Linked DNA regions of Homo sapiens: all the other regions are linked to region 3. Evidence: fine-mapped expression QTL. A gene starts in region 3. Each other region holds a variant in brackets. All regions are shown on one strand. Distances are between the middles of the regions. Region 1 overlaps LRRC69 (leucine rich repeat containing 69). Region 2 overlaps PIP4P2 (phosphatidylinositol-4,5-bisphosphate 4-phosphatase 2). Region 3 holds the start of NECAB1 (N-terminal EF-hand calcium binding protein 1).

Evidence for each region. PIP is the estimated chance that this variant, and not a neighbour inherited with it, causes the effect.
Region 1: its variant is the best candidate, but not a certain one, in a credible set for the expression of NECAB1 in unexposed skin (GTEx, PIP 0.84).
Region 2: its variant is the best candidate, but not a certain one, in a credible set for the expression of NECAB1 in thyroid (GTEx, PIP 0.53).

Annotation. Positions count from the first base shown.
Region 1 is chr8:91,109,965-91,120,766 of GRCh38, reverse strand. All of the region lies in intron 1 of LRRC69 (leucine rich repeat containing 69), which reads right to left. Among named protein-coding and RNA genes, the nearest start is that of LRRC69, 13 kb to the right of the region's middle. RefSeq lists a silencer at 999-1,199. The variant T/C (reference allele first, on the strand shown) is at 5,081.
Region 2 is chr8:91,003,162-91,013,963 of GRCh38, reverse strand. PIP4P2 (phosphatidylinositol-4,5-bisphosphate 4-phosphatase 2) reads left to right here. Exons shown (of 7, transcript NM_018710.3): 5 at 5,169-5,221. Among named protein-coding and RNA genes, the nearest start is that of C8orf88, 23 kb to the right of the region's middle. The variant G/A (reference allele first, on the strand shown) is at 5,156.
Region 3 is chr8:90,786,515-90,797,316 of GRCh38, reverse strand. NECAB1 (N-terminal EF-hand calcium binding protein 1) reads right to left here and starts at 5,542. Exons shown (of 13, transcript NM_022351.5): 1 at 5,332-5,542. The coding sequence starts at 5,430. It overlaps LOC105375633 (a long non-coding RNA gene), which reads left to right and starts at 5,149. Exons shown (of 4, transcript XR_928389.4): 1 at 5,149-5,879.

The DNA.
Region 1 (10,802 bases), 320 kb before region 3:
GTAGAAGGCAAAGATAGGCCACTTAAAGCATCTGGTACACCACATCCCACAGCTGAGTCGTGCTCCATCCGCAGCTACCATGAATTTATCCCGTGAGGACTTTCTCCTGCGCCCTTCTTGGAAGAATTTCCCTTAACTGCAAGGAAGGGCTTTACCTGGAAGGTTGTGCCTCTGCTCCATCCTTCCAGACAGCTGCTACACCATGGCAGATGCCAGGACATAACAGCCCAACCCCTTTGCCTCTGTGCTGCAGGGCATGCCCCAAAGCTCTGAAGGGATTGGGCTGAGACTACATTTCTCCTGGAACCACCTCTTTATCCAGGTTCTTTCCCTGCCCTGTCCAGATTCCCTCACTCCTGGGAAGGTTTCTTCTGAGAGAAATGCCTCAATATTACAAAAATCTATGTTTCAGGATTTCCCAGATATATAGTGTAACAGAATCCAAGGCAAAAGCAAAAGAAACAAAAAGTATTTTAAAAAGGAAAATTTGGGACATATCCCAGGGGAAGGCTAAACAAAATTAAAGCATCAAAATAACCACTGGATTTAGCAATTGGAAAGTGATTAGTGACCTTGAAAATAGGGGTGAAGTGTTGGGGAAGAAAGTCTAATTGAAGTGGGCTGTGCAGAAAATGTGAGAAAGCAAAGACAACAACTAATAGACAATTCTTGTAAGAACTTTTGCTATGAAGGGAAACTAGAAAATGAAGAAGAAGCTGGAGTTCCCCCCCACCCCCAAGATAAATGATAGTATAGCTTATTTATGTGCTGATGGAAATAACCCTGTAGGGATTAGAAACTCATGCCTTAAATATGGGGACACTCACAGAATCAAAATCCTTTAGAAGATGAGACAGGTACAAAGTACAAGTGGGTGCTGGCCTTAGATAAGTGAAAGGGCTCTTCATCAAGGGTAGTAGGAAGGAAGGTAGGAAAGGGTGAGTGAGGATCAGATAAGTAGATGAATTCGTGATGAAAAGATGAGAGAGTTCCTGAAGGATGATGTCTGTTTTCTCACGGAAATATGAAACAAAGTCATCTGCTGAGAGGAGGAGATTAGGAGGTTTGAGGAAAAGGAAAAAGTCACTTTGAAAGGCAATCTAGGGGAATGTAGTAGGGTGAACGACAACCACAGTTGATTATCTCATCCAAGTTAGCTCCCAAGATATTATAAAATGGATAGATGACCTAGGAAAAGACATTTTATCTGGATAACCACATGGTCCTTTGACTGGAAGAAGCTACCATGTGAAATTCTGAGCTCTGCAACCAAGAATGTAGCTTGGAGAAGAGGAAGAGAGTTCACATAAAAACCTCAACTTGTAAAGGATTTCAAAGTCAAAACTAAGATGAAGTGAGTGCGACTGGGAATATTCTTCATAGCATAGGATAACCAAAGGAAGATTCACTGATTGCCTTTAAATTCATAAATGTCTCTTAAAGACTAGGTAGTAGCATTTATACTCTGTCACCATGGCAAATACATCAGAGCTTCAGTGTAGATTACTTAAATTATACAGAAAGGTCCAGAAACACTGTAGCAAGGATAGAGTTACCTTTGAGAAATACCTCAAGCCCCAACCTAGATGTTTCATTAATTCAATTATGTTTAAGATATGTCTATGATGGTACTATTTCTGAATGCTAGAGGAAGAGTGAACAAGACACACAAGATCCCTCTCTACAATGCTTCTATGTTGGGAAGTGAGTCAGACAACAAATAAGTAAACAAATGAATAGTGTGTTAGTAGTTAGTCTTAAATATGAAAAAAAGACAACAAGATAATGCAATGGAAAGTAACTCAGGACTAGATTGAGTCATTAGAGAAGTACTCTCTGAGAAGATGACACTTGATGTAAGATATTTGGAATGCTTTGACAACATTGTTTCAAATGGTGTTTTACTAACAAAGAACTGCAGAAATAGCAGATATACAGAAAGAATGTAGGCAGTGTTTCATTAGTAACATTCTCTACGGTTATGTGTAGTTCCTGAAGGAAGGCTTTAGTCATATGACAGACAACTATTTGATAAGCTTTAAAGCTTGCATCTCTTCAGTAATTAAATGTAGAATGAAGTTCTATTGGTATTCTCTCTCCCTTGGAAATTGATATGGTTATAGATGGAAAGACACCATTGCTACTGATTGCTATAGATTGAAAGACACCATTGCTACTCATAGACCCATGAGCCACGGAATTATAGCAACTTACAATTAGAAGAATTTTTTTTTCCTTTTGAGACAGTCTCACTCTGTCACCCAGGCTGGCGTGCATTGGCATGATCTCGGCTCACTGCAACCTCTGCCTCCTGGGTTGAAGTGATTCTCATTCAGCTTCCCAAGTAGTAGGTATGTGCCACCACGCCTGGCTTTTTTTTTTTTTTTTTTTTTTTTTTTTTTTTTTTTTTTTTTTGCATTTTTAGTAGAGATGGGATTTTTGCCATGTTGGCCAGGCTGGTCTCGAACTCCTGGTTTCAAGTGATCCGCCTGCCTCAGCCTCCCAAAGTGCTGGGATTACAGGCATGAGCCACCGCACCCGGCCTAGAAGGAAATTTTACAAGTCACCTAGACCAACATACAGAATGCAGGTGGGCAATTATATACCTTCCCCATGAGCACACCCAGTAATGGGTAGCACTTTTATCTTGTTAGGAAGATCTAGCTATCTATATTTAATTTTTTAGTATTTAGGCTCTCTGAAATTTCTACCCAATTCTTCTCACAGCAATCATAATAAATATTTGCACTCCTTCTCTCTCACATAATCTTTCAAATTTTTGAAGATTGCTATCATATTCCCTCTAAATTTTTTCCATTTTCCCTTAACTATTTCCCTCAGGACATAATTTCCAGACCCCTGACCATACTGACCACTCTCTAATTTTTGTGAGCACCCCTCTCTGAAAAGATGGAGCCTATGGTGAGACAGGAAATCAGCTCTCATAGCACATATGTTAGTGGGACCACGGGTCTCCCTCTGGCGGATGACAACACTTCTATTATGCAGCCTAACATGGCATGTACTCTTTCAGCAACAAGGCACATTGTTGGTGCATAATTAGTTTTGTCTGTGGCCAATAAAAACCCCTAAGCTAACTGTCAAGCAGATATCCCACATCCTGGACTTGTGCAATTGAATTCATTTCTTAACCTAAATGTAGGAATTTACAGTTATCCCTGTAAAAAAAAAAAAAAAAAAAAAAAAGTGGATCTTGTTAGTTTCGGCTTCTAAGATAACTCCAGTGGATCACTCTAAATTCAAAGTATAAAACTGGACAATGCCCCCTGGACAAACTAGATCTGCTTCTCCCACTTCTCATAAACCTATGGCGGCCAAACATTGGAGCTACCTAGAACATCTTTCTCTCCCTCCACCTAAATTCAATCTGCCACCAAGTTTTAGTCTTAAAAATCCTTTTAGATGTACCTTTTTCAGTTCTATCTCATTGCAATGAACCTAGTACTCATTACTGCCTGCCTGTAGCATTACATAGCAAAAGATGTAAAGAATGGATGTATTGTGACTTAAATTCCCTTTATTCAATCCTACTAGATTGTATCTAAACAGCTGCCCAAAAGATGAACCTATAATTTCTCTACCCAGTATATCCTAAATGTTTCCAACCTCCCTGTAGATAGTCTTTTCTATGTCTTTGTATACTTGCTCCAAATACTGTCTGTCTATGCTCTTACTAAATTTTATCTGATTTGTTTGATTGTATTGACCCACTCATACCTGAAAGTTATAGCCTATCTGTGGCCTGCCTTAAAATAGGCATGTGCACTTTCTCTTACATCTTGGATATGAGGCAAGCATCTCAATGTCCATTGATGCCTTTGGATTATAGAATCTAGGTTCAATGTATAGTGATATTTTTAATAAGTAAGAGAGAAGACAAGAAATTTAAGGAGAAAACATACAGATTATTAATGACAATACTGACCAATACTTAAATTAAATTTAAATTAAGTGCCAAATATATGAAACACTGTGCCAAGCTGAATTTTGTCTAATGTGGACCTCGCAATAACCCTGATCTTACAGAAAAGGGATCTGAAGTCCAGGCTATGATTTATGGTGAAATGACCTAGGTTCATTCTACGGCCTATATTCCTAACTCCTACCCTCCACTGTCTTCAGTAATACACTGCGCATCTTTAAAAGGAATTTACTATTGCTCAGAATGATCATACATATGCACATGATACAAATATATATATATATGTATACAGACACATATGCTCACACACATACACATGCTCACAAAATGAAATGGAATACAATACATGAAATTCTCATTTTAAATATCCTTGTCCTATCATGTGCACATTCTTGAGTCTGTATTGTGCAGTAGGCAAAGCACAGGCTGTTTGCTATGCAATGTACTGAATATGTGATCTTGGGCAAGTCACTCAAATTCCTAAGCCTCTATTTCTTTATAAAAATGGGGATACTAGCATTTACTTCTTAGGGTTGTCTTAAGGATTAGAGACAGTTTAATAAAGTGCCAGGCAAATAGCAGATATTATTAAATGGTAATCTTTTAGGCCCAGGAAAATACTGTGGGGTAAAATGTTAGCCATACCTGGTGCTAGAAATGCAGTAAACACCTGATACACACACACATACACACATACATACATATTGACACTTTACTAGTTTTCAAATTTAAAACCTGCTTATTTTCTTAATTTCTAACTCATTTTTTCAAACATTTCTAAATTCACAAGCACTCTTTTATTAGGCATAGGTTATAAACCATGATTAAATTACACATATATATTCATTACCTGGCTCACGGTGAAGAGACATGTATGTTAGGCTTACCTGCAGGAGTGATACCTGTAAATATGAGTGGGATTGGCAGGATCTCCATGTGCAGGGTCAACCACAGGCAAGGAACCTGAAGCAGCCTTGCTGGAAGTGCCAAGGAACAACTCCAGGGTCAGCTTTGTTTCACCCTCAGAACTCACTAACCATAGTTAGGAGCCACAGTCACCAACAGCAATTCTATTTTCCTCTCCTACTTGACTGAATTTAGAAAATCGCTTTGATTTACAAATTGCAAAAAGGGAGA[T/C]ATCTGATAGAAACTAAGAGATCTTCCCAGATGTTTGGGCAAAAATTTAAGAAACATTTAGACTGGAAAAGTTTAAAGAAATATTCCTGCATACTTTAGTACATAGAGAACAATGCATCCCATTTGCTGAATTAAGCCTAAACTCTTAGCTCAGAAACTGGTATGACTAATAGACACAGTATTTTAAAAAATAGTATTTCTTTCCACAGAACCTTTAAATACACAATCCTGCTGTGACAAAAATCCACCAGTGCTGGGGACTGGCTGGACTGTCACTACTGACTATGCATGTATGAGCTACCAGTTAGCCACAGTTCCTTCCTAGTCCCTTTTTCTCATATGTTACCTGCCTGGAGGCATGTGTTTTCAACCTCTGAATAAAATAGATGGCCTGCAAAAGAAAATCTCATCCTATTATTTAACAGCTTTCTCCACCCATTTATCTCAAACTGTTTCTTGTAACTTCTTCTCTGTGTGCGTATGTATGATCAGAACACTTCAGATCTACCCCTTGAGCAAATTTCAAGTATACTATACAATATTAACTATAGTCACATCATTGTGCATTAGCTCTCCAAAACTTATTTATCTTACATAACTGAAACTTTGTGCCCTTTGACCTACATCTCCCCTTATCTCCCTCTCCCTAGACCCTTGTAGCCACCATTCTACTCTCTGATTCTGAGTCTGACATTTTTATATTCCATGTATAAATGAAATCATGTAGTATTTGTCTTTCTGCATCTGGTTTATTTCACTTAGTATAATGTCTGCCAGGCTCATCCATGTTGCTGCAAATGATAGAATTTTCTTTTCTAAATCTAAGTAATATTCCAATGCATATACAGTCATGTGTCACTTTACTATGGGGACACATTCTAAGAAATGCATCGTTAGGCAATTTTGTCATTGTGTGAACATCATAGTACTTACACTAACCTAGATGGTATAAGCCTACTATGCACCTGCTATAAGCCTACTATGCTATGTGGTATAGTCTATTGCTCTTAGGCTAAAAACCTATGCAATACAGCATGTTACTGTACTGAATACTAAAGGCAATTGTAGCATAATGGTAAGTATTTGTGTATCAAAAAGTATCTAAACATAGAAAAGGTACAGTAAGAATACCGTATAATCTTATGGGACCACTGTCATATATGTGGTTCACTGTTAACTGAAATGCTGTTAGGCATCACATGACATATGTGCATACATACATATATATATACACACACACACATACACAAACATTTTCTTTATTCATTTGTCCATTGATGGACATTTTGGTTGTTCCCATATCTTGGCTATTGTGAATAACGCTGCAATGAACATGTGAGTGCGGATACCTCTTCAACATACTGATTTCATTTGCTTTGGATATATACCCAGAGTAGGATTGCTGGATCATACTACTATTAATTTTTTGAGGAATCTTCATACTCTTTCCATAATGACTGTACCAACTTACATTCCTACCAACAATGTACGAACATTTCCTTTTCTCCACATCCTTGTGAATACTTACTTTTTGTCTTTCTGATAACAGCCATTCTAACATGTGTAAAATAATACTTCACTTTTGTTTTGCTTTGTGTTTCATTGATGATTAGTGAAGTTGAGTACCTTTTCATATACCTATTGGCTATTTACATGTCTTCTTTTGAAAAATGGCTATTCAGGTCCTTTACCTTTTTTTTTTTTTTTTTTTTTTGAGACAAGTCTCGCAATGTTGTGGAGGTTGGTCTTGAACTCCTGGTCTCAAATGATCCTCCTATTGGCCCCTTTACCCATTTTTAAATCAGGTTATTTGTTTGTTTGTTTCTTGCTATTGAGTTGCACGAGTTCCTTATATATTTTGTATTTTAACCACATCATATATATGCTTTGCAAATATTTTCTCCCATTCTGTAGAATGCCTTTTTATTCTGATGATTGTTTCCTTTGCTGTGCAGGTTTTTAGTTTTAAATTATCCATTTGTCCATTTTTGCTATTGTTGCTTTTGTTTTTGGCACCATATCCAAAAAATCATTGTCCAGACCAATGTCAAGAAGTTTTTCCCTATGTTTCCTTTTAGTAGTTTCACAGTTTCAAGTGTTACATTAAAGTCTTTAATCCATTTTAAGTTGATTTTTGTATACCATATGAGATAAGGGTCCAATTTAATTATTTTCCATATGGATATCTAATTTTCCCAACATTTATTGAAGACACTATCCTTTCCCCAATGTGTGCTCTTCGCACCCTTTCAAACATTAGTTGATCATACATACGTGGATTTATTTCTGGGCTCTCTATTCTGTCCCATTGGTCTATGTGTCTGTTTTTATGCCTAAGACACACTGTTTTGATTACTGTGGCTTTGTAATATATTTTGAAATCAGGAGGTATAATGCCTCTAGCTTTCATGTCTTTGCTCAATATTGTTTTGGCTATTCAGGTTGCTTTGTAGTTCCATATGCATTTTAAAATTGTTTTTTCTATTTTTGTGAAGAATACCATTAGGATTTTGATAGGAATTGCATTGAATATGTAGATCACTTCCAGTAATATGGACATTTTAATAATATTAATTCTTCCTATCTATGAAGGGATGTCTTTCCATTTACATGTATCTTTTTCAACTTCCTTTATTAATGTCTTATAATTTTTCATGTATAAATCTTTGACCTGTTTGGTTGTTTGTGAGTACTTTATTATTTTTATTGCTATTGTAAATGGATTGATTTTTTAATTCCCTTTTCAGATACTTTATTCCTTGTATATAGAAATATGATTGATTTTTAGTATGTTGATTTTATAACCTGCAACTTGACTGAATTCATTTATTAGTTCTAACGGTTTTTTATTGAGTCTTTAGACTTTTCTATGTACATGATCATGTCATTTGCAAACAGAGATAACATTATTTATTTTCTGATTTGGTTGCCTTTCTTTTTCCTTATTTAATTGTTGACTAGGACTTCCAGTACTATGTTGAAAAGTAGAGAAAGTAAGTATTCTTTCCTTGTACCAGATATTACAGAAAAAGCTTGCAGCTTTTCCCCACTGATGATGATGTTAGTTGTGGGAGTCTCATATATAGCCTATATTGTGTTAAGGTAAATTGCTTCTATACCTATTTTGTTGAGAGCTTTAATCATGAATGGATGCTGAACTTTGTCAAATGCTTTCTCTGCATCTATTGTGATGATCTGGGTTTTTTTCTTTCGTTTTGTTAATGTGTTATATCACATTGATTGATTTGCATATATTGGGGTCCTTGGCAGTAAAAGGTGCTGCAGTGCTGCTGATCTCTTTTCCTTCTATCAGGGGTAGTTGTGGCCAAGGGGATGCCCCTTGGTGGTAGGTCCAGCACATGGGCATGTTTGGGCCACAGAGATGCCACTGTCAGAAGTGCAAGTGCATGCAGAGCAGCCGCAGAGCTGGGTCTGGAGCACAGGTACATGCAGAGTGATCACGGCTTTGAGGTCCCAGGTCACAGCCACTTCTGAATGACATTTTCATGGAATGAGAAAAATGGCCACAGAAGGACTGTTAATTTTGCTGGATAAAAATTCTTTATTGTTTCTGCAGTAATGATGTGTTTCAGGATTCTGTTTTCATTAAATACTAACAATATCTTGGTTCTCCAATAATTATAACAGATTTTCGTGCTTAATGCTTCCCCTTGAGATTTACCATCTTCCCCATGAAGGCATCCTCCTTTTGCATTTGCATAGCACGGTGTACTTTCTATTATCAATTATTATTATTTATATTATAATGACTTGTGTATATATATTTTTTATTTTTTTCACTTTTAAGTTCAGGGGTACATACATGTTCAGGTTTGTTACATAGGTAAACTTGTGTCATGGGGGTTTGTTGCACAGACTATTTCGTCACCCAGGTACCAAACCTAGTAGCCATTAGGTATTTTTCCTGCTCCTCTCTCTCCTCCCAGCTTCCACTCTCTGATAGGCCCCAGTGTGTGTTATTCCCCTCTATGTGTCCATGCGTTCTTATCATTTAGCTGCCACTTATAAGTGACAACATGTGGTATTTGGTTTTCCATTCCTGCATTAGTTTGCTAAGAATAATGGCCTTCAGCTCCATCCATGTCCCTGGAAAGGACATAATCTCATTTTTATTTTTCTATTTATTTTTTTTGAGATGGAGTCTCACTTTGTCACCCAGGCTGGAGTGCAGTGGCACGATCTCAGCTCACTACAACCTCCACCCTCTGAGTTCAAGCGATTCTCCCGCCTCAGCCTCCCGAGTAGCTGGGATTACATGCGCCTGCCACTGTGCCCAACTAATTTTTTGTATTTTTAATAGAGACGGGGTTTCACCATCTTGGCCAGGCTGGTCTTGAACTTCTGACCTCGTGATCCACCCACCTTGGACTCCCAAAGTGCTGGGATTACAGGCATGAGCCACTGTGCCTGGCCCATAATCTCATTTTTTATGACTGCATAGTATTCCATGGTATATATGTACCACATTTTCTTTATCCAGCATATCACTGATGGGCATTTATGTTGATTCTATGATTCACATGTATATTTTACCTCTACTATTAAATAGGAAACTTTCCAATGACAGGGTCTGTGTGTGAATCATCTAGCATTCAAAGAACAATATCTGGAATATAATAGTTGCTCAATAAATATTAGTTGAATGATGCCTGCTTAGATCATCTCTGTAAAGACTCAAACTATGGAATAGTCATTATGGCTCCACATCAGTTTTTATTTTCAAAATCAAGTATCTTTTGAGCTTAATCTGTTCTAATTTGCCCAGCTTTATTTATTTCCTTCTAATGAGCTGCATGCTTTCTTTATTCTAGCCTGCTCATTCTCACTAGCCCCTATATTCAGTTCAATGTAGTGCATATCATATGTAGGCCTAGAACTTGGACCAGACAGCCTCTCTTAATATTTAATTATTCCATGCTTGTAGCTATTAATTATCACTAGAAAACTCTATGCTACTTATTATATATTTTAATTACTTGGTTTTGACTAACTTAGATAAACTCCCCCACTCCCTGGCCTTTTATTTGAGACAGAGTTTTGCTCTTATTACCCAGGCTGGTGTGCAATGGCATGATCTCGGCTCACTGCAACCTCCACCTCCCAGGTTCAAGTGATTCTCTTGCCTCAGCCTCCCAAGTAGCTGGGATTACAGTTATGCATCACCACACCCAGCTAATTTTGTATTTTTAGTAGAGATGGGGTTTCACCATGTTGGTAAGGCTGGTCTCAAACTTCTGACCTCAGGTGATCCCCACCACCTCAGCCTCCCAAAGTGCTTGGATTACAGGCGTGAGCCACTGCACCTGGCCAGATAAAACCTTTTTAAGTATTAAAAAAATTCTCAAATGTCCATCTTTATCTGGAAGACTGTCTTCCTAAACTAAATCATGGTTATACCATTTTGGAATAAACTATTTGATTATTTGCCTATAAGATGTATAAATATGTTTGAACTACTTAACTTCCTTAAGAAGAGTGAATCTTTAACTTCCTTAAGAAGAGTAAATATTCACATTTATTATAATCAAATAGTATATAATATACATGTCAGGTTCTGTAAACTATTTTGTAAAGGTAATCGAATCAAATTAATGAGGGAATAATAACGATTTTACATTTTTGAATTAGCATATGTATGGCCAACGTATGGAAGGAGGTTCAATTTATGGTTCAATCTGCTAATTCTTATCAATGCCTTTTT
Region 2 (10,802 bases), 220 kb before region 3:
CTGATTTAGTAGGATATGTCTCCTTTGTTACATTTATATTTTATTGATTAAATCAGTGACTAAGTACGTAAATTAGAAAATATACTTGGTGGGGATAGGTAACAACTTTCTTTTTAAAAAGTCACTATAGGCTGGGCATGGTGGCTCATGCCCTGATATTCCAGTGCTTTGAGAGACCAACATGGGAGGCTCACTTGAGGCCAGGAGTTTGAGACTAGCCTGGGCAACATAGAGACCTCACCTCTACAAAAACATTTAAAAATTAGCCAGGGGTAGTGGCATGCACCTATAGTCCTAGCTACTCAGGAGATTGAGGTGGGAGGATTACCTGAGCCCAGGAGTTGGAGGTTGCAGCGAGCTATGTTCATACCACTGCATTCCAGCCTGGGTGATAGAATGAGACCCTATCTTTAAAATAAATAAAAATCAGTATATACTGATTTAATATAAACTAACGTACTCTATAGTTACCAATAGATATTAAATGAATTAACTAAATTAAATATATAAAGCATATTTGTTATTTTCTTTTTCATATGTGAACAAACTTTTGACAGTAACACAATTTTAAAATCTTCAATATAGATTTGTTTCAACCTACTTCTGGAGATCTCCCTTCTACAGCTACCTTGCATTCTTTCTTGTTACGTTTTATCTTCCAAATATTTGCCATGGATAATCCTTGTAGCCACATTACAAAAGGAATGATTTTATTTTTTCAATTATATATATTGAGTGTGTGTACCAGGCACTGAGCTAGGTGCTAGGGAAACAGTGGTGAACAGGAAGCACAGTCTCTGCTTTCATGAAATTTTCTAACCTAATAGGAGAGGAATGGATAGCAAAGAGACAAGCCTGAAAAAGCACAAGGCTAGAATTTTGGCTTTTATTTTTCAGCAAAGTGATGATGATAGTCAAGAATAGCATAAAGAATTTGAGAGAGAATTGACTGTACTAATAGGGTAGAAAAGGGAATGAGGAGAAAAGAACAATCAAAAAGACAGTTGTTATAAAGGTTTATATTTAATTTTTAGAATCATCTGGCAATGAATTCTAGAGAATGATCTAAATTGAGAGTTTAGGTAGATATGTATGTGCCATGGTTTCTATTATATTAAAAAGTAATTTGTACATTTAGATATTTTTCCCCAAGAAGAAAATTACTAAAGTAATGTGCAAGCCAGAGACTTACTTCTAAAGCTGGCTCTTTCAGAGACTAACTTCTAAAGCTGGCTCTTCCTTACTTAACATTCAGTGCAGGCAAGTGAATCATATTATCATATTAGCAGAGTAACTATTATTTAAAACTTTAATTCTTTAGCAAGAAAAGATGTTTTGGATTAAAATACAGTATTTAAAGATGATTTCAAAATTTTATAGGAAGTTTTTGTTGATTAGGGGAACACTGTATACACCTATAGGAGAGGTATTGGTTACTTTTGAGAGTTTTGGATTAATGAGAGATGCTCAGTATTATGAAGAATACACTGACTACAAAGTTCTTACAGCCTTATCCTTATTATTATGCTGATCTTGACTAATCTTATATTCTTCATAATATGTTATTTGCCCTTCACACTGTTAATTATTAGGTTAATTCATTTACTCATTTCCTACTTTGTTTTAGACTTAGCTTGCAAGGCTAAAAGCAATTGAGATAAGTTACAAAGATACACTAAGTTCAATATGATTGAAAATCAAATGTGAAAAAAAATCAGGAAAAATAATAATTAGGGCAGAAAAAAACAACCTGAAGTCATGCATAATATGAGTATGCTAATATTTAGTCTAATACAGTTGATAAAATCAGGCTGAATCTTAGCTCTGAGTTTTCTAGAGTCAAAGAAAAGAAAATATGACCTGTGACAAAATACTCAAGATATTTTATTGGAAAGATCACATAGGAAATGCTTTTCCTGAAATAATGAGCTCTCTCTCCTGAGAGAGAATTCTCTCAAGGATTAAGATAAAAGAACTATTATATGTGACAAGGCTTTTATTATTTAAAAAATTTATACTTAAAAATAATTTAATTTTGATATTTTACCCCCAGAAAAAAACACAATTGCTAAAGTAATATGCAAGCTAGAGACTAGCTTCTCCATATTCTCACAGCATCCTTCTGTTTATAATAACATTGTTTAATATACCAGTGCTATAATGGTAAGGTTAAATTTTCTAGGAATTCACAATATTTACACTATTCATACCACAGCCTAGCTGGGACCATGGATAAATGTAGAAAAGCCAGATTTGCGTTTTCCAAAGTGTATTCAATGGCACATTTATTTTATAGGTTAATAACAGGTGTTTGTGAGTAAAGAGTTCCATGTTCGTTGGGAATTGCTAGGATTAAAAAATTAAACAGAATTTAAAATAGGATATTCTTTAGCAGTTTTAGCATATACCATTGTATATATTTAAGAGGGAGTTTTTATGTTGTATGTCCAAACATTTTTTACCCTCCAAACCATTTTGAGATCATCTAGCCTGAGTGGTGATTTGAAGGGCATTGTTTGAAAAATAATTTCCCAGAAGAATGAATTGACTTATAAAGCCTTTAGCTAGTTCTCCATAAATGCAAAGAAGTTTCTTAACACAACTGAACAGCAGAGTTTACTATTACATTTCTGTAGGGCCCATGGTCTCTGTTGCTGGTAAAAGGCATATCCAGATACTTTGTTAATCAACATTGACTGAGGGTTGTTGTTCTTTAATAAAAGTGAACACAACTTAGTTCTAACTTTGCCCTGAAGTGGGCCAATTTAGTACCTTCAGGCAGGGCCAGATTTTTTTCATTTGTATCTAGGGACAAATGGGTGCCATAGCAGAGAGGGATAATAGTTTTAACTTGAACATATTTCAAAGTGTTACCAGTTGCCTATTGTATCTATCTGTCTATCTATCTATCTATCTATCTATCTATCTATCTATCTATCTATCTCAGTAAGATACTATAAAATTAAATTATTAGTTTTAAGCAATATAGCTTTTTTTTTTTTTTTTACAAATCTTCTAAGATTAGTTGCAAAATATATCTTGGGGAAACTCAATTTATCCATTACATGTTATAGAATAGTTAGAAATAAGTCAAATTTTAGAAGATCTCTACTAAAAATGATTGGGTTTTAGAGAAGTTGCTTTTAATCTTGCTGATATAATTAAGATTTTTTTCTTTTTGGTATAATGAGACTTCAAGGTCTGGCAATAAAATTTTAAGAATCCAGAGGCCAGATTTTAGATGAGAGAACAGTACTAAGTCAACTTCTTTTCCAAAGCATAGGTTTGGGATTCATTTGAATAAATTATAAGAAAATTATTCTAATAATAGATGCTTTTTGTTATTAGTTTGCTCCGTTTAAGTGAGTACTTGCAGATAACAACAAAACCAGATGTGGTAGGTTGCTGGCAATGTAATACATTAATTACAGAATAAAGTCCCTACTGTTTGTCAGTTATCATTGATTTTATCATGCATAATTTGTGCTAAAATGAAGAACACTATAAAATGATAACATTGGACTAAACAATCTCCTTAGGCATCATCTAAAATACTGAAATTCCTATGTCAGTCTGTTAGCCTTAAGTCTTGGATTTTGAGTTACTCTTGACTCAAAGGTTTCATAATTACCTTCTCAAACCAGTTTGCTTCTTTTAACTATGAAAAACTTAAATTTTTTATTTATAAATAACATTTGAAATGACATTACAAGTTCAGTAACTATCCTAAGCCTGTAACAGAAACATAAAAAAGCACTTAATAATAGTTCTATATTCTTCCACTGCTTAATGTTCTATACCAATTTCTGTAGAAATCTATATTAATATCTGTTTAGCACATTAACTCAAGAATTTTTACTTTAAGAGCAGTTTTAAAATAAATTAACTTGTTGCAAATTGATATTATAAGTAATTCTCTCATAATTAATGAGAGAAATATTCACTCTAGCTTGAAAAATAAGTGCCCTTGGTTTGACATTTGCAGATGTTTAAAAATAATCATTTTGTAAAGAGAGTGAACATTCATGTAAAGTTTTATTTCTCTTTTATTTATCTTGGGACTATATGTTCCTGTTGTGACTAAGCGAGATCATAACAAGGTTAACTAAATTTCATGAGATTTGAAATAAAAATGAAGAGAAAGGAGTTTAGGAAACCCAAATTTATATTTTCTTTTCTTAACTCTAATCATAAAAGAAAAAAGTATGCATCAGATATTTTCTAAAAGGTATCTTCTATTGTGTGGAAAACGTTTGAATATCCATAAGTTATTGAAACCCCCGTATCTAGAATTTGAGCCTTCTGAAAAGAAAAATTGTTGGCCTAGATTTCCAAATGAAACAATTTTAATAAAAATATGTTGTTTTGATGATAAACTGCCAAAGTACTTAAAGAAATTTTCCCAAAACTATCAAGGAAATATACCCTTTATAAGGAAGTATATAGAAAAGCAAACAAGATAGAAGAAGATTGTTAGAAAGTCATTTAACAAAATATATTTCATGGGATAAAGATTTACTTTAAATTTATATTGCATATTCCTTCAAAGACTATCTACAACCAGTAAGTCATTTCAAGTATCTGAATAACATTCATGTGAGGAAGGTAGCACATTTATTACTTAGATTTACAGGGAAGAAAATTGTACTAAGCAGTGTGTTTTTGTTATATTGTATAAGCAATGACAGAACAGGAAACAGTTCCCGACTTTTTAGTTTATGTACTTGGTGACTTTCTCACATAAGTAGAATAAATAGTTTAATTTTAGTAATGAATCTAAATATTCAAGTATTTAAAAGGCCAGCCCTCAAGACTTAAAAGAAAAATAACTTTGATGGTATATGAAATATGATTGTATTCGTTGGAAGTGAACTGAGACTTACTGAACAAGATGACCCCAATTATGGTATTACATTCAGTATTCATGTAAAGCAAACCTAGATTGCGTCAGAGCATTGGAAAAGTCATGGGAACTATTTCAGAGGAGGATCTCATATTGTATTTTAAGAGAGGGAGAGAAGTATTGGAGGGAAAAACTCATGTAACCGTGAGAAGGTGATTGCTTCTGTTGTGATCCCTGATGACATTTAAAGTAAAAGAAATGTCTTATCAGATTGGATAGTTTTCAGTTGTTTTCTTTTCAATTCCTCTCTTT[G/A]TTTATTTTACAGTGGATGGAACTGAGGTTCAACACTCTGGCAAAATGCCCACACTGCAAAAAAATGTAAGTTCCCTACCATTGGAAATATTATTGAGAAATACTTGAGACAAATTTGAAGAGTTCAGAATTTTCACTTAAGTAGATTTTGATTTTAAAACATGCTGTGGAGTGAATCCATGCCAATGTATTTATGCTTTTTAAGACTAAAAAGATATCCTAAAACAAATATATCCCATTTTGAAATTAAAATGATTAGGCTTGATTATCATCATCTAAAGGGAAATCAATTTCTATTATAAGAAAGTGAAATTGCTAAAAATTATCAGTAACCTGGTTAGGATATTATAATCTGTTACAAATAATCTAAAATTTACATTTATAAAATGGGCTGTAATCTAGGAGAAAACTCAAATTGTTCTGGACTTCATAATTAGGTGATTGTTGGCCTTTTTCATCTCCTGCCTAATAAGATTATTACTGATAGCAGCATTTATATAATTATTTGTTTATCTTAATTATTTAGCCTATTTCTCTCTATTCCTAAATGATGCACCTAATGAAAATAATGACAATATAAAATGAAAAATAATAGAAGATATTTTGATTAAAGACATTTTATAGCATCTGTGTTGGGGGTCCCAAGACTACACCAGGGTTCCTTGGTTTTCTACAGGGACTCATAGAAATTAATATATAGTTGTACTCACAGGTATGATTTATTATAGCAAAAGTATGCAAAGCAGAATCAGCAAAAGGAAAAGGCAGATGGAGCAAAGTCTGGAGGAAACTAGGGACAAGATTCCAAGGGGCCCCTCCCAGTGAAGTACCCCAGCAGTGAATTATTACCATGCATGTACCATGTTGTCTACCAGGAGGCTCATTAGAGACTTAGTACCCAAGGTTTCTACTGGAGCTGGTTACACAGGCACATCCTACCTAGCACACACCAAAATTCCAAATTCCTGTTTGAATGGAATTTATGTTTAGCATAAACCATACTGTTTACACAAACAATTTATACATAATAAGCCACTCTTACCAGTTAGGGAATGATGGGAATTCTCCCCAAATCTAAATTTCTAGATGCCAGCTAAGGGCCAACCTTACAAGCAGGGCTTTCTAAGGATAGCAGTCTCAGGCCTACTGTGTTAACTCTTTTCTGCACTGCATCTATTTTGATAATAAAATTATAATTTAAAAAATTATTGTTATCCTCTTATGTATGTGAATTATAACTGAAGCAAAGTAAATTAAACTGGAATGCTTAGACAATCCAATTTTTATTATTGAAAATAAGAGGTTTGAAATAATATTCATATTTTAATTTGTGTGATCCTTAGTATGATATAAATACCTTATCTACATTGAGAGTTGAGAAATCCCAAGAATGGTTTATAGGAGAAAGTAATTAAAAAGTATTTGGAAGTAGAATATGTGTAGCAAAATATCTCCATCTCTGCTAGATCTGATTTCAACTAAATATAGCTCTGTAAGAATAACTTTACAGCATATCTTAGCTTATAAAAAATAGTTTCTTTTTTATTTGTGAAATTAATCATTCTGATTCCTTACTGAATCCAATAGAAGTCTGTACATGGAGAAGCAAAGTGGATAAACCCTTAATACGTGCACAAAATAATATATACGTACTTGAGGAACACACCTATACTCCCCCCTCCAAAGTATGTGAATATGCATATGGATGATACATATTTCTGGGTATTATGTGTATTTTCACGAAAATGTACAAAATTAAATTGCAAATATATTCACCAAGAACATTAAAATGGAAATAAAGATCTTATAGAAAAGAAAAGGCAGAGACTTCTTTTTTTTTGAGACAGAGTCTCACTCTGTTGCCCAGGCTGGAATGCACTGGCACGATCTCAGCTTACTGCAACCTCCACCTCCGGGGTTCAAGCAATTCTCCTGCCTCAGCCTCCCAAGTAGCTGGGACTATAGGCACACGCCACCACGCCTGGCTAATTTTTGTATTTTTAGTAGAGGCGGGGTTTCACCATTTTGGCCAGGCTGGTCTCGAACTCCTGACCTCGGGTGATTCACCCGTCTCAGCCTCCCAAAGTGCTGAGAATACAGGCATGAGCCACTGCACCTGGCCTGACAGAGACCTCTGTGGTTAGCAGACTGTGTGCTAAGCAGAGTGATAGTTGCTTTATATATACATATATACTAGCTGTAATCTTTACAGCAATCCTGTAATACAGGGATGATTTTTGTAATTTTACAAATCAGCAACTGTTAAGAGAGGTTAAGGATTTTGCTCAAGGGACTTGCTTGGTTAATTATTTTCGTACAATGGCAATATTTTTACTACTAATAAGGAAGTATTGAATGTCTGAATACTCCGTGATTTGTTAAAATATCACAAGACAGTGTATTAATATGAAGAAGAATTTGTATCAACTACTTAGGGAACAACTTACATAGAAATTCACATGGAATAAATCAGCTTAAACATTATTCTAAGAGGAAGGTTTGTAGAATCAGAGTCACATGCTAAACATGGGAGGACTCAGAGCATTCATTACTTATTTGAGTGCAAATACTGTGACCACATGAACACTCCTAGCTGGTATCTAGATTTATTTTCTTTTTGAATGTTTTCCTTCAGAGCAAAATGATGGGTCATCTGTTGGAGTAAGATTCTGAGACAGAATTTTTTTTCTTTAAACACAAATATCCTAAAATTAGTTTTAAGTTACAGAAGTTGGTAAATTTATTACTGTGAAACAAGTGTGTTATGTGCTTTTATCTCACAAAATGTATGGGGAAAGCTTCCCCTAGAGCTCCAAAGACTGAGGGGCATTTTCTCATATTGCTGTTTCTTACTCGAATGGTAGCTGGTACTATGGTAGCTAAAGGTGATGTTGTTCTTTTAATTAGGTGGCTTGTGGCCACTGCCAGACTGAAGGTGTACTTGTAGCATTCTGAAATACAGTTTGGACTATGTTTCCATGCAAATGTTATAATGGACCTATGACTAGTAGAGACATTGATTTAATCCATGACAATTATCATTGAATATCATTTCTTTTACATCACTGATGTACTTTTGTGAATCACCTCCTGCCATTTTAAACAATAGTGGGCTTATTCTCAAGTGTTATCCATTTATTTTGCCATCTAGTGTTATATTTTATAATTATTCATTAATTCAACAAACAATTCTGTGCTAAGTACTGATTGCTTGAAATAAAAGATATAATCTTGCCTTCAAGGAATTTAGTCTTGTGGGCATAGTGGGGAGAATAGTTAATTACTATAAAGTTTTAAGTGCTTTGAAAGAGGTATGACCAGAATGCTCTGCTTTGAAGAGTCCCTAATCCAGATTAGAGGGAAAGGGATCTTGAGTGAAGGTTTTCAGGAGGGAGTGATATATGAACTAAGTTATAAAAGATGAGTGAGAATTGTGTGAAAAAGAGGGTGCACTGTAGAAGGAGCTACCTGTGCAAAGGTACAAAGGAGTCAGAGTATAGATGTACTAGTAAGGAAATGGAATGGATAGGACTGAATGTGAAAGAATGAGAGAGAGAGAGATTGGGATCAAGAATGACCCTATTTCTGAGAGGCTGTAGAACCATTCACTGAGACAGGACATGCAGGATCTAGAAGAAATGTGTCTGGCAGAAGATGATAAATTCATTTTCAACATATTAGATATAGAATAGTAGGTTTGCTAGATTGGTTAATCATCATTCCATCTATCTGCTTTTCAAAGCAGCAATCTTGGATCAATATAGCCATGGCTTCTCCCTTCCTTCACCAAGATAACTGAGAGTTGAAAAAATTCTGTATTCAGTTCTTTACAAATGTATAGATTTGTAATTTATCTAAATTGATCTATATTCCTAAGTGTCCTTGATTGACTTCCCATTTCCCAAAACAGCTATCTCCAGATATCTACTATTCCTCCTAAACCCCCACCTCAGTACCCCCAACTCTCCAGGTCTCATCCAATGAATTGCCTCCTATCTCTGAAATAATTGAGGCTATCTGTGAATTCTCTCATTTTTGTATTTCATACTCGTAAACCTGTCTTTATCCATGCTCACTTCATTTCCTCTTCTCAGAGGGATGCATGTCTCTTCTTTCCAAGGCTTATACCTTCATTTGATTATTGCACCCCATTCTCTTTGGAATAAGGCACAATTAGCTATCCATCCCCAGTGGGCCACTGAATTTGCTCTAATGAAATTCACATCCCAATAATAAATTCCATATTTTGATTCTCATCCTGCTTGTTTTCTCTGTAGCATTTGATACTATTGATCATCCTGGGTGTGCTGATTAATTTTAGGTGTCAACTTGACTGGATTAAGGAATGTCTAAAGAAATGGTAAAGCATTACTTCTGGATATGTGTGAGAGGGTGTTTCTAGAGGAGACAGTGGACTGAATGGAGAAGATCTGCCCTCAATGTGAGTGGACACCATCCAATTCGCTGGGGGCCCAATAGAAAAAAAAAAAGCAGTGGAAAGGCAATTTTCACTCTTCTGGAACTTGGACACTCTTTTCCTGCCCTTGAACATCAGAACTCCAGGCCCTCTGACCTTTGGACTCTGGGACGTACACCAGTGGTCCCTCAGCTCCGCAGACCTTCCTCCTCAGACTGAGAATTACGCCATTGGCTTCCCTGATTCTGAGGCTTTTGGACTTAGACTGAGCCACACTGCCAACAGTCCAGGGACTCTTACAGATCCCCTGTTGCAAGACTTCTCAGCCTCTATAATCACAGTAGCCAATTTCCTTGATAAATTGCCTCTTATCTATTTCATCTATCTATCTATCTATCTATCTATCTATCTATCTATCTATCTATCTATCTATCTATCTATCTCCTGTTGGTTCTGGCTTTCTGGAGAACCCTGACTAATACAATGGTTTCTTTTCCTTAAAGTTTGTTTTCTTGGTTTCCAGATACTGCTTTCTCCTGGGTTTCTCCTACTTCTCACAACTCTTCTTTGTTGGCTTTACTTTCTCTTCCAAGTTGTTAAATTTTGCTATTTTCCAAAGTTGGAACTTGACCGCACTTTATCCGGGTTTTCTCTTATGTTCCTATGTCATTTAGATGCCATTAAATGACCCCAGATATTTCTTTGGAGCTTCAGATTTAAATATACTATCTCTATTCACTATCTAGCCTAGAATTATTTCAACTTGATATCTCATGGTCATTTCAAGCACAACCTGACCCAGCATTCCCACCTTACTCTGCAAACCAATCTCCCATGTGTATTGATAAATATATTATGTTTTTCTTTTTCACCCCCTACATTATTTCTAGAAAAAGAATATATTATTTTAATGAATGTTATCCTGTCTGTCCAACTGACCAACCAAGAAATATTAGTGTATTTTTTATCATTCTCCATATTTAAATGGTAATATCCTATCAATTATGTCCCTTGACATTTTAATTCTGTCCTCTTATTCTCATGATTTCTACTTCAGTTCATGTATTCAGCATCTCTCACCAGGACTATTGCATTGGTTTTCTAATTTATCTCTTGACCTCCAATACTGCAATTATCTATTCATTTACTAGAGTGGTAGTTCCTAAATGCATACGTCATTTTAGATTCTCTGGCATCAAATCTTTTAGTGGCTCCCAATTTCTTAGCCAT
Region 3 (10,802 bases):
GTTCCAGCAACAGGTAGGTATCACCTAGACTCGCATGCAGAAGAAGATGGTCCTCCTTTTTTACTAAATTGATGTAATTACTGCAGGAGGACTGCTTTCAATAGTAAGAGTTATGCTTAAAGCAAAATGAGACCCAGATTATTTTTCCTCCAGAGTTAATTGCTAGAGGGGATTTTGAGGATTCATTCCCTTATCACAACCAGCTTCTTCCTGTCCTCTGCAACCATGGAGCCCCAGCTGAGAGTCAGGGAGACATGAAACGCATCCTATTTCTTACTTTTGGTTCATTCTAAGATTCTATTTCAAGCTGTATTTTGTCCTCAGGATTTTGAAGTAACTAGAATAGAATAATCACACACCACAGAGTTGGACCCAGGACTTCTGTTCATTTCATTTCATAAAGAACAATCTCAAGTAGCATTTAGCCTCTGAAAGATGAAATAAAAACAGCAGCTTTTGTTATTAAGACAGTTCTTATAATTAAATATGAACAGAACTGTCTCTGCTGCAAATTTTGCCTCTGATCCCACAGACTAATAAAAAATGTACTCCGGATGAGAATCAAGTTCATTACGTTATGGTACCAGAATAATCTGTGTCAGCCGATCTTAAGGTTGCTACCACTGGATAGATGGTAAATAAATTTAAATATTATGGTCAGGCTTAAAATTTGAAGACAGGCAATACTGTGTTTTCGCTACAATTCAAAGATTATCAAATAGATTCCTTTATTTCAAAAATATTCTTTGATGGCCTCAACTAAAATTCCTTATTCATCACTTTAAGTTATTGAAGGCAGGTGTTAAAATGTAAATGTTATCTTTGAAACATTAAAAGATGGACACAATCATAATTTACTGAACTAATATTTCTAAGTGCCTCCTACCATGAATCAGGTTAAGATTTGATAATGAGGTGAAATAGTCCCTTGGTAGATTCCTGAGAAACTAGAATATAAGACAGGGACTCAGGACTAATCCAGAACATGGAGTCCCACCACACAGGGTCGGCAGGAGTCTCTCCCATTAGAATGCCTGGTGTTGCCCAGGTGTCGCAATCATTAGACTGCCTGGGGTCAGATGGGAGTCTCTCCCATTACCAGGGTGGGTGGGCCCAGACTTCCAGCAGGTAGTTTTACTACCAGGCCACTGGTTGCCCTGAAACTGGATAAGGGGAAGCAGGCACTGAAAGATGGATGGAGAGAAGGAATCAGTGCACATATTTTCATCTTCTCAATTTTGCCTAGGGTAGGCCCAGTGTGGGAAAACAATTTTTAATGTATGATAACAGTAAGACTAAGTGTATTTTTAAATACTTTTTTAAAAATTTTTTAAGTTCCGGGGTACATGTACAGGATGTGCAGGGTTGTTACATAGGTAAACGTGTGCTATGGTGGTTTGCTGCACCTATCAATCCATCACCTAGGTATTAAGCCCAGCATGCATTAAATTTTTTTTTCCTAATTTCTGCTGTTTCCTATAACTACAAGAGTGACATTTGCCTTGCCAATGAGGGTAGACAATGATGGGGTTAACTGCCATCCTCTGAACTGGACAATCTCACTCAAATGAGCAAGTGTGTGTGTGTGTGTGTGTGTGTGTGTGTGTGAGAGAGATGAGGTGAGATGGGAGGTGTGTGGCTATAACAGAGTTCAGTCACAGAACCATTGCATCTGGAAGACTCATTCGGCTTCGACATTCCTCTGTGCATCTCACACATCATACAAATGAGCATATATGGGGCTTCAGAATTAAGTGTCCTTGTGAAAAGAAACTATTTCTTGTTTTCACCAAGTTCCTGACCATCTATGCTCTGTATCTTGCATTCAGAGTGTACATGAGTGTGCATGCTTAGACGAAGGAAGGAAGGGAAGACAAGCAGTAAAGTCATTCATCCCCCTCACAACTTTCCAGCCTCTTTCCCTCTTTAGCAGTGAAGTGGGGAACAGTCACTTCCCTTCCAGTTAAAAATCAAAGGAAAACTGATGGGAAAGGAAAGTGGCATTGGGTGGATGAAGTTGCTACTAATTTCGTTTGGGAATTTCTCTTGCTTTTGGGGATGAGTTGAAGGTTTGTTTTTCTCCCTTTTCACAGTAGCGGAGTTGATTAATGTAATGACTCAAAAGAGGAGACACATGCTACATAGACTAGTATTCCAAACTAGAGTTCCTCTTCTGTTAACTGGATTGCAGCAACTGGGGAAATGATAGTCCATTGGTGTAAAAGGAAAAGCAATAGTAATCCCTGTGGTCCTATGTGTTGCCAGGACCCAGTTGAGTCCCTCTCCTGTGGCTGGCAGGCATGCCATATGCAAATGCTTGCTCCAGCCTCAATGCACTGGCATACCTTGGCACCAGTGCTAGGTTTTCTAAGCCTCCCATCAGTATTCAAGAGTATTTATGATGAACCGATACTTAATTCTGTCATATTCTAGCAAGACAATTCTATAAATTAGATTCATGAAGAAATAGTCCCTGCATCAGTTTGTGGATTTAGCTACTGTTACTGTTATTTAATACACTCAGTGTGCAGCACTGAAATAACCATAATACTTCAAATTTATGCAATACTTTTTGCTTTGTTTCCATTTTCCCTTATTTCATACTCACAACAGCCTAAGGAAGTATCATAGTGATTACTATTGCTGATTTGGAGAGGATACTGAAGGAAAAGCCAACAGTTGTGGCAAATCTATCTCTGATTTTCTTGTTAAAATCTGTCTCTAGTTTCCAACCAGCTGGTCATGTATCATGTCATTAATAGTGTTCTCAGTAGCAGTTTACATCATTTCTTAAATGATTGATTATTCCAGTGACATTGCAATAAAAAGCACTGCAAATCAAAGTTTTCCTCAAATTTGGAAATTGTCTGTTTGATACAGAAGACACACAGAAAATTACCTGTTCCAGTTTGGAACAGGTAATATCTATCACCTATGTATTATAATATGAAGATAATTTTAAAAGTAATCTTTCTTGCTAGTGCCATAGAATATATTAAATCAAATAAATAAAGTGATGCATGTATATTTTATATTTTATTTTGCTAAAAGTGGTATGATCCAGAAATGAATAATTCACAAATCCCTAAGTAACAAATCATTTTTCATATCACATATTTCACCAGTGTTAGATTTTTCACAAAATAACTCAAAGAAAAGTGTAAACAAAATCTTTTCCATTTGACACAAAATCCAATGGCAGGTTTTTTTTGTAGACTCTAGCATTTTACCGACAAACAAGCATGTCAACACCTCTCATAGGGAATCAGTTTCCTATTTTTATTTTTAAATCTCTGAAATATAAAAGGCAAGACCACCCTATTCACAGACTACAAGTTCCTTTAGTACAGGGACCTGATGCTATTTGTTTACAGACTTGGAAACAATCATGCATACATAATAAAAAATGAAATTTTAATTTTCTCTTCGAAAACATTGCAGTTGAACACTTAAGCAATGGCTGGTGTATGAGTCAGGAGGATGACTTTCCATTTGTGTAGTTTTAATCCATTCATCTCCACACTATCACCGGGGTTTGTTAAGTGCTTTTTAAAAAGCACAGGGAAGCACTTGATCTCAATGGGGGACAGAGTGAAGATCAGGTCAGAATGAATGGAGGCCCCACTTGTCCCCTTTGAATCAACTCCATGGCCCCTTAATTGTCAGCCTCATAACTGACATGATTTCCAGGGGCCCTGACTTTTCAGGCATGTTGTGGTGCCCTTCTCTTTTCTCAGCTTACCTCCTCAAGTGCTTTATGGCCCTGAACAGCAAAACTTGAATAAGATCAGCCCGTTAAGCCATGAGCACCAATAATACCATCTGACTGACCCAAGCCAGGCAGAGATAAATGCTCATGAAGGATAAGGTACTTAACCACCTGATTGGGTGGCTGAATAGGAATGACCACACCTGAGATTTGGTGGGAAGGAGATGACCAGCCCAGAATGCCTGGATCACCAATTGGAGCCACCAGGTGATAAAGGGTGAAGGCTGCCAGTACACACAGTTGAACCTCACTTCTATCATTTGCCTTACAACAGTTTGAATTATTGATAGGAGTTTCTTTCCCTAGAATTAAAAAGAATTCTAGCCAATCCATTCAAAATAAACTTGGGAGAGCGCCTCACATCCTCCTATCCTCTTTATCTCTGCCTCACCATTATGATACTAATTGATTTCCTCATATTTTCATCTCTCCACAAACAAATGTATCTGGCTTCTGGCCCATCTCCCACTCATTTTGACTTTAATAAGAAAAGATAACTCAGAGAAGGGTAAAGGACAGAGCACGTAGCACTCCTCCATGTCCTTTGACATTTTCTATCATGCCTAAACAAGAAGCAGACAGAATTGTCCCCACTGAGATAGACACGACCTCCGGCAACAGCATGAATGTGACAACTGAGGGGCTGGGAGAGCCTGGAGCCCGGCAAGCAGCTGAGAGAAACCCCAAAGCAGAGAGAAGAGATAGGCAACAGACGGAAAAATAGAGAAAACAGAAACAGCAGGCAGGAGAGGAAAACAAAATTGAGAAATAAATAAGAAATAAAAGTGCTGTAAAGATAGAAACCACACCATACGGGAAAAAGAAACAGCACAGAAGGAAAAGAAAGGATGTAATCAGATCAGAGTAATGAAGGCAGGCAGTCGATACCGAAGTGAGAAATTGGACCAAAGGGAAAATAGTCAAAAGCTAGAATTCATGGAGGTGACAGTAGTAATTAGAACTTGGAGAGAAGGAGAATATCAGGGAAGAAAAAGGGAAAATAGAAGAGGTGGCAGTGACAAAAAGAATCATTATGAAAATGATATTTCCCACCGCTGTAAAAAGAAAAACAAATATGCTCAAAGTAATTGTTTTCCGAGGGGGTCTGGGGGAGGATAACGAGGGCATCTCAATCGCTGCTGCTTCCCTGGCTGGGTTGCTTGAGAGCATCCACGAGTGTGAAGGCTGCGAATAGGGCGCGTTAGAGAGATGAGTTGGGACACTGTCCCCACCTCACCCCCCACACCTTGTGCCTCTTTAAAATGTCCTATGCACTCAAATGTTGTCTGTTGTATTTGCAATAGTGTCTCTACGAAACCCAGCCTGTTGGAAAATCTAACTTTTGCAGTTTTCTTAAGGGTGTTAAGCCACAAGCTGCAGGTCTGGGACAGCCCTAGCTGCAAGTTAAGGGACAGTCGTTCCTCCTGCATTTGCATCGGTAGTTCTCGCCTGTGTTCTGGGGACAAAGCATTGGCTGGTCAGCACCTGAGCCGAACCCCTTCCTTTCGGGGAAAAGAAAGGTGCTGGGAAGCAACCGCCCAGCTCCCACCATCTGTACTTACGTCGAGGAAGATCGACATGCCCTTGGACAGGTGCAGAGCAGAGCTGAGCTCCTCCGAGGAGTTGTTGGAGGACGGCGATGTCTCCTGGGAATCTTCCATCCTCGGGAGCCCTGACGGCCTCAGGCGGAGCGGGGCTAGGCGGACGCACCGGCTCTGGCAAGGGCGCGGCCGCAGCTGCTGCTTCGCCGCCGCCGGGCTCTGGATCCGGGAGGGTGTTCGCTCCCGCGCGCGCCTCCCTCCGCGCTCTCCGCGCTCTCCGCGCTCGGTGTCCCCCCCTCCCTCCTCCGGCCTCTGCGCTCCCACGCGCTCCAACTCTCGCCTCCTCCTTCCCGTAGTTGACGGCGTCTGGATCCATGTCATCCCCGCACGTAGCAACGCGCGGAGGGGAGCGGGCTCTGCCCCCGGCACGGCCATCGGCCACGGCTGGAGATAGCCTGGGGACCCCTACCAGCCCCACGACGGCCCCAAGTGCAGGGATGGAGGAGGGCGTCCGGACAGAGAGAAGGGACGAATGGCAGGGCGTTTGTCCTGAGCAGCCAAAGCGCAAGGTAAGGACGCCCCCAGCCTCACCTGAGTGGATGCCATAAATAGGGAGGAACTCAGAGAGGTTCTACCTACTCTGCTTTTGGTCCCAGTGGCCTGTCTGCCCGACCTTCCCCAAAGGCGGGGGCAGGGTTCACGAATACCAGCAATCGAGGAGCAGCTGGTTTGGTGTAGGGATTAAGCCATTCGGTGTTATCTTGCGCTCGAAGGACTTAACCTGTAAGCCTCACTTTTCCTCATCAGTAAAATGGTTACACCGGTCTCACCCCAGAGGGTTCTGAGGCTTACCTATGGCAGTGCTGCTGACAAAGGCGGTGCTATGAACTCTGCCTAGAGTAGGCTTCGAAACGTTTGCTATGGGGCAAGGATTGTTAGGTAATGTTCAAATATGAAGTTTCCCAAAGTCACAAGACGAAGTCCTTATCTGTGTTTAAGCATTTAAACCAGGGTAATTATTCAATATTTGACGGCTTCTGCGAAGGCTGTAAAAATAGGAAACTGACCACACCTTTCATCAGGAGAGAGATCCAGTTTATTGGGCATCTAAAATGTGTATGTGTTGGTTACAAACTTGAGCTATCTGGGAGCGAGATAAGGCAAAAAAGAGGGAACCTTGTCTAAACAAGACTCTGCCTCTACCAGTGAGAACGGGTGAGGAGGATCCAGATCTCCATTTTGTGGCCTTTGGAGAAAAGTAAACATATTCTTCCTATAAGACAGGCCCACACACAACCAAAATGCTGATCAACATGTGAGTGTCTTAAAGGCATGTAAAACATGCTAGGGGTTTCTCAGGAGAGACAGGTTACACTCTGGCTGGGGGGACCAATAAAAGCTTGATGAAAGAAGCGGTATATGAAATGGACCTTAAAAATCAGTGGATACTCCATGCTTGATAGAAATAGAAGGAAAACACTTCCAGGCAGAAGGAACAGCGTAAGCAAAGCATGGCACCAGGAAAGCACGTGGAAGCTGGAAGTAGTCCACTGGGGATTCCTATAAACATACAGAATCCCAGATCCTACCTGGGCTTTCCAAATCCCAATACTAAAGTACTGTCTAGTCCAGAAATCCAAGTCCCCCTCACCCTAATGATTCATACACAGTTGCTATGTAGTAGGCTCAGGACTAGGGTGTGGCAAGTGGGGCCACTTGAGCACAGAATGTAAGGAGGCACTTGCTCTCAATCTCTATCCTGTGCTTGCATGATCCTGAGAATGATTTTCTTAAATTTTGCACCCTAGGTGTCTTGTTCACTTCACCCAAGTCCCACTGCTCCTTTGTAGATGGGTGCTTACAAAAAAAAAAAATGAATCCAGTTGTTCTCAACGCTGCCTGTACATTGGAATCACCTGGGGTGTGTGGTAACTTTAAAATGTGCCCACAAATTCATTGACATTCTTCCTATAGAGAAGTGGGTCCCCTCCCCTTAAATCTGAAAGATTGTGACTGCTACAATGAATGAAATGGAACAGAAGTGTTGCTATGTGCTTTCCGAGGGTAGGGGCATAAAAGCCTTTGCAATTCCACTTTTTACAGTGGATTTGCTCCTGGATTCTTGAACTTCCGTATAGGAAGTTTTTCTACCTTAAGCCACCATGCTTTGAGGAAGCCCAAGGTATATGGAAAGGCAAGTGTAGACACCTGGCTTACAGGTATAGCTAAGCAGAGCCTTTGCATTATCCCAGCCTCAGCAGCAGAAATGTCAATGAGGAAGCCTGCAAATGACTCCAGCTCCCAGCTCTTGCAGACATCCCTAGCCATGTGAGTTGTCCCAGCCAAAACCCCAGGCATCATGGAGTAAAGGCACACTACCAGTGCTGTGCTGTGTCAGAACAGTTGGACCACAGAATTGGGAACATAATAAAATGTATACCGTTTCATACAAATAAGTGTTGAGGTGGTTGGATTTGTAACAATAGATAACCAAAATAAGGAGCTAACCCTCCCTGCACAAACACACACACACACAAACCAAACTGATGCCTGTGCTTCATCCTCAAATTCACTTTCAATTAGTATGCGGTGGGCCCAGTGGATTAATGTTTGTTTGTTTGAAGATTTCCATGTGATTCTGATGTGCAGCAAGGATTAAGAATCACCAAACTTAACTGTGCTGTACATACAGTACAGGAAAAAAGTAGAATAAAATCTCAGAAAATAGGCAGAGGCTATAGGATGAAAATCTGTGAAGCCCGGGGATAGAACTCTGGACTTAATTAGGTAGAGAGTTAGAGACATTAAACTTAATCAGGGGTGAGATATTGATTGGAGCTGTGCTTTAGGAATATTCATCTGACATCTTTATGTGCATTTTCCTAATTAACTGCAAATTTCCTTACCTGAACAGTGAGAATAGACCCTTCTCTTTGACAACTGTTCATCAAAATAGATACAAAATCATTTAAAAAAAAAACATACTGGTCAACCCATCAGATAGACACAGGTCATTCAAATCACTGAAGGAGAAAAACCACGAGAAGGAGGGGGGCTGTCAACCATTAACATCAAGTTACTGAATTTATCAAAATAACATGTTGTTTATTCCTGCCATTGGATGAAGAATGGAATAGATTTTTCTGCAACAAGTGCAGTTTAAGTCTGACCCCTCTAACCCAAGTTGTGCGGGTCCCTCAGCCCTCAAATTCAACCACACAAGTGATAATATTTTTATGCCAATCCCATGGTAACAAGAATAGTTAATAAAGGAGACTTTCTCTGATTATAAATGAAGAACAGGAGAATAATCAGCAGTCATCATTCAAAACCAGGAAGCTGTTTGTAACACTTTAGTTACAAACACTTCAGTTACAGGAAGCTGTTTGTAACACTTTACTGACAATGAATGACATTTTCTGTACCTGTGGATTTGCTTATTTCCTCTAATGGTCTATCAAGGAGAAACATAAATTATTAAGCAATCAACCGATCATTATTTATTTTTATGATTCCTATGTGAACACAGGAATACATTCTGCTGTAACTGACTTCTCTTTTTAATGGAAATGTAATGTTCACAGAGGCTGTAGTAGAAAAAATGGCAATTAGATTCACATTCACAGACAAATTCAATAGGCTCTACGAAGTGGCAACCAAACATATTTTTATAGTTTTCTTTTTATCTAGATGGCATGCATTTTTGAAAGCAGTTTTCACACATTTTCGTGAAACACACATGCCTCACTGCTGTGCATAGTATCAGTCACAAACAGCAGACAACCGACTTGAGGGAGGAAATGCAACTTCTTTGTAGCAAGGGCCTAAAAAAAATAGAAATGTAATTCCAGATTCCAGCTCTCAGGCTTCCTATGATAAGACTTTGACGTGAAGATATTTCTAGCATTTCAGGAGATGATAGCTGTGTGGGAATATATTGTATTTCAATCCATCTCTGCCTTGTAGAAGAACTATTATCTAAACCATTTCAGACAGCTGGGAATCTATCTTATTTATATCTTAAATTCTAGGGAAGGTTATCCTTCCCTTTTGAGTGATGACTCAGAATCCTTTCAGTCAGGTTAGTGGACATTTTTGTTGCCTTGGCAGCTTAGGATCCAAATCCCCTTCCGCTTTAAGTGCCTATCCCCATGGTGTGTTTCCTGACTGGGGGCAGAACTCGCCCCTTCTGAAGGAAAGAAAGGAGATCCTCTCCCTCTTCTCTGGTAGCTGGAGCACAGGCTGAGAGCTAGGCTCAGCTGATAGGACACTTCACTTGTGTGTTTAAACCTGAATCAAGGGATGTGCGGGGAAGTTTATTAATGGCAGTAGACACTCACAGTGTAGTGTTGAGTGTGGCCACAGTGCCAGGGGAGCCCTGAGGATGAATTAATCAAATGGATAATGGCACTCTGTGATTTCAGCAGCCCTGTCCTCCAATCTTGATCTCGAGGCTTTCTGCCGACTTCCTGAGAGACCTAGTATCCTTCCAAAACTTTCTTTTCTGTTTTACCTTAGTCAAAGTTAGTTTTTTATGTTTGGATTCTGACAGATAAATTCAATTTAAATTTCTAGTGTTAAAGAAGGCCATAGTTAAGTCATTGGAAATAGCTGTTTAAAACATTTAATTATCTTCAGACATTTATTGATTGCTTGCTTCAATCCAGGCAACTGACAGGCAAGCTGGGGAAATGATAAAAAGGACTGGCCTTGCCTTTGCAGAACATACACAACTTAAGGAAACACTATTTTAATAGATAATTTTAATGCAGTGAGACAAGAGTAACACCAGATGTTTGTGGTGAAGGCTGAGGCAGGACAGAGAAAGAGACTTCTCCCCATAAGTGCCTATTCTGTGTGATCGTTTATCTAACTGAAGAGGGCAAAATTAGGACTCAGGAGTAGTAAGTGCCATGGGCCAAAATTATTAACTAATAATGGTGATCTTCCTATGAACTATTTTACCCTGAGGATACATTTTTGTGTTATGCCACTGTGTGCTACTAGCTTACTCAACTTGGAGCTCTTCCATTTTGAAGCAAAAAAAGAAAAGAAATCCTCAGTGCCTAGTATCCTCCCTTAACCCTATGTGTTGTTACAATTAGTGTTCCCTGTCTTTATCTTTATCACGGGCAAAATTTCTCATCTGTAAAAGCAAGAATGAGGTATTGTGTGCAAAGAGCTTAGTAAACAGTAGGCACAAAGCAGGTATTCAACAGTTAGTCACTGTTTTCCCCACCAGCACCACTGCTTTGCAACCATGTTGTTAAGAACAGAGAGACTTCACATAAGTACCCGGTAGGGTATGGTGTCTGGAACATGCGGGTCTGGTGAGCAGTGGTGGTCACTGTGACCAAGACATTGCTGTCTATTGTCCTGGATGCTACAGATTTTCCCCTCCTTCTTGAAACTCTTGCTTTTTCTTTCTGATCATGTTCCTCCTACTCTCCTTAGTCTTCATGGAGTCTCCTAATTCTTCTAGCCTTCTAGAT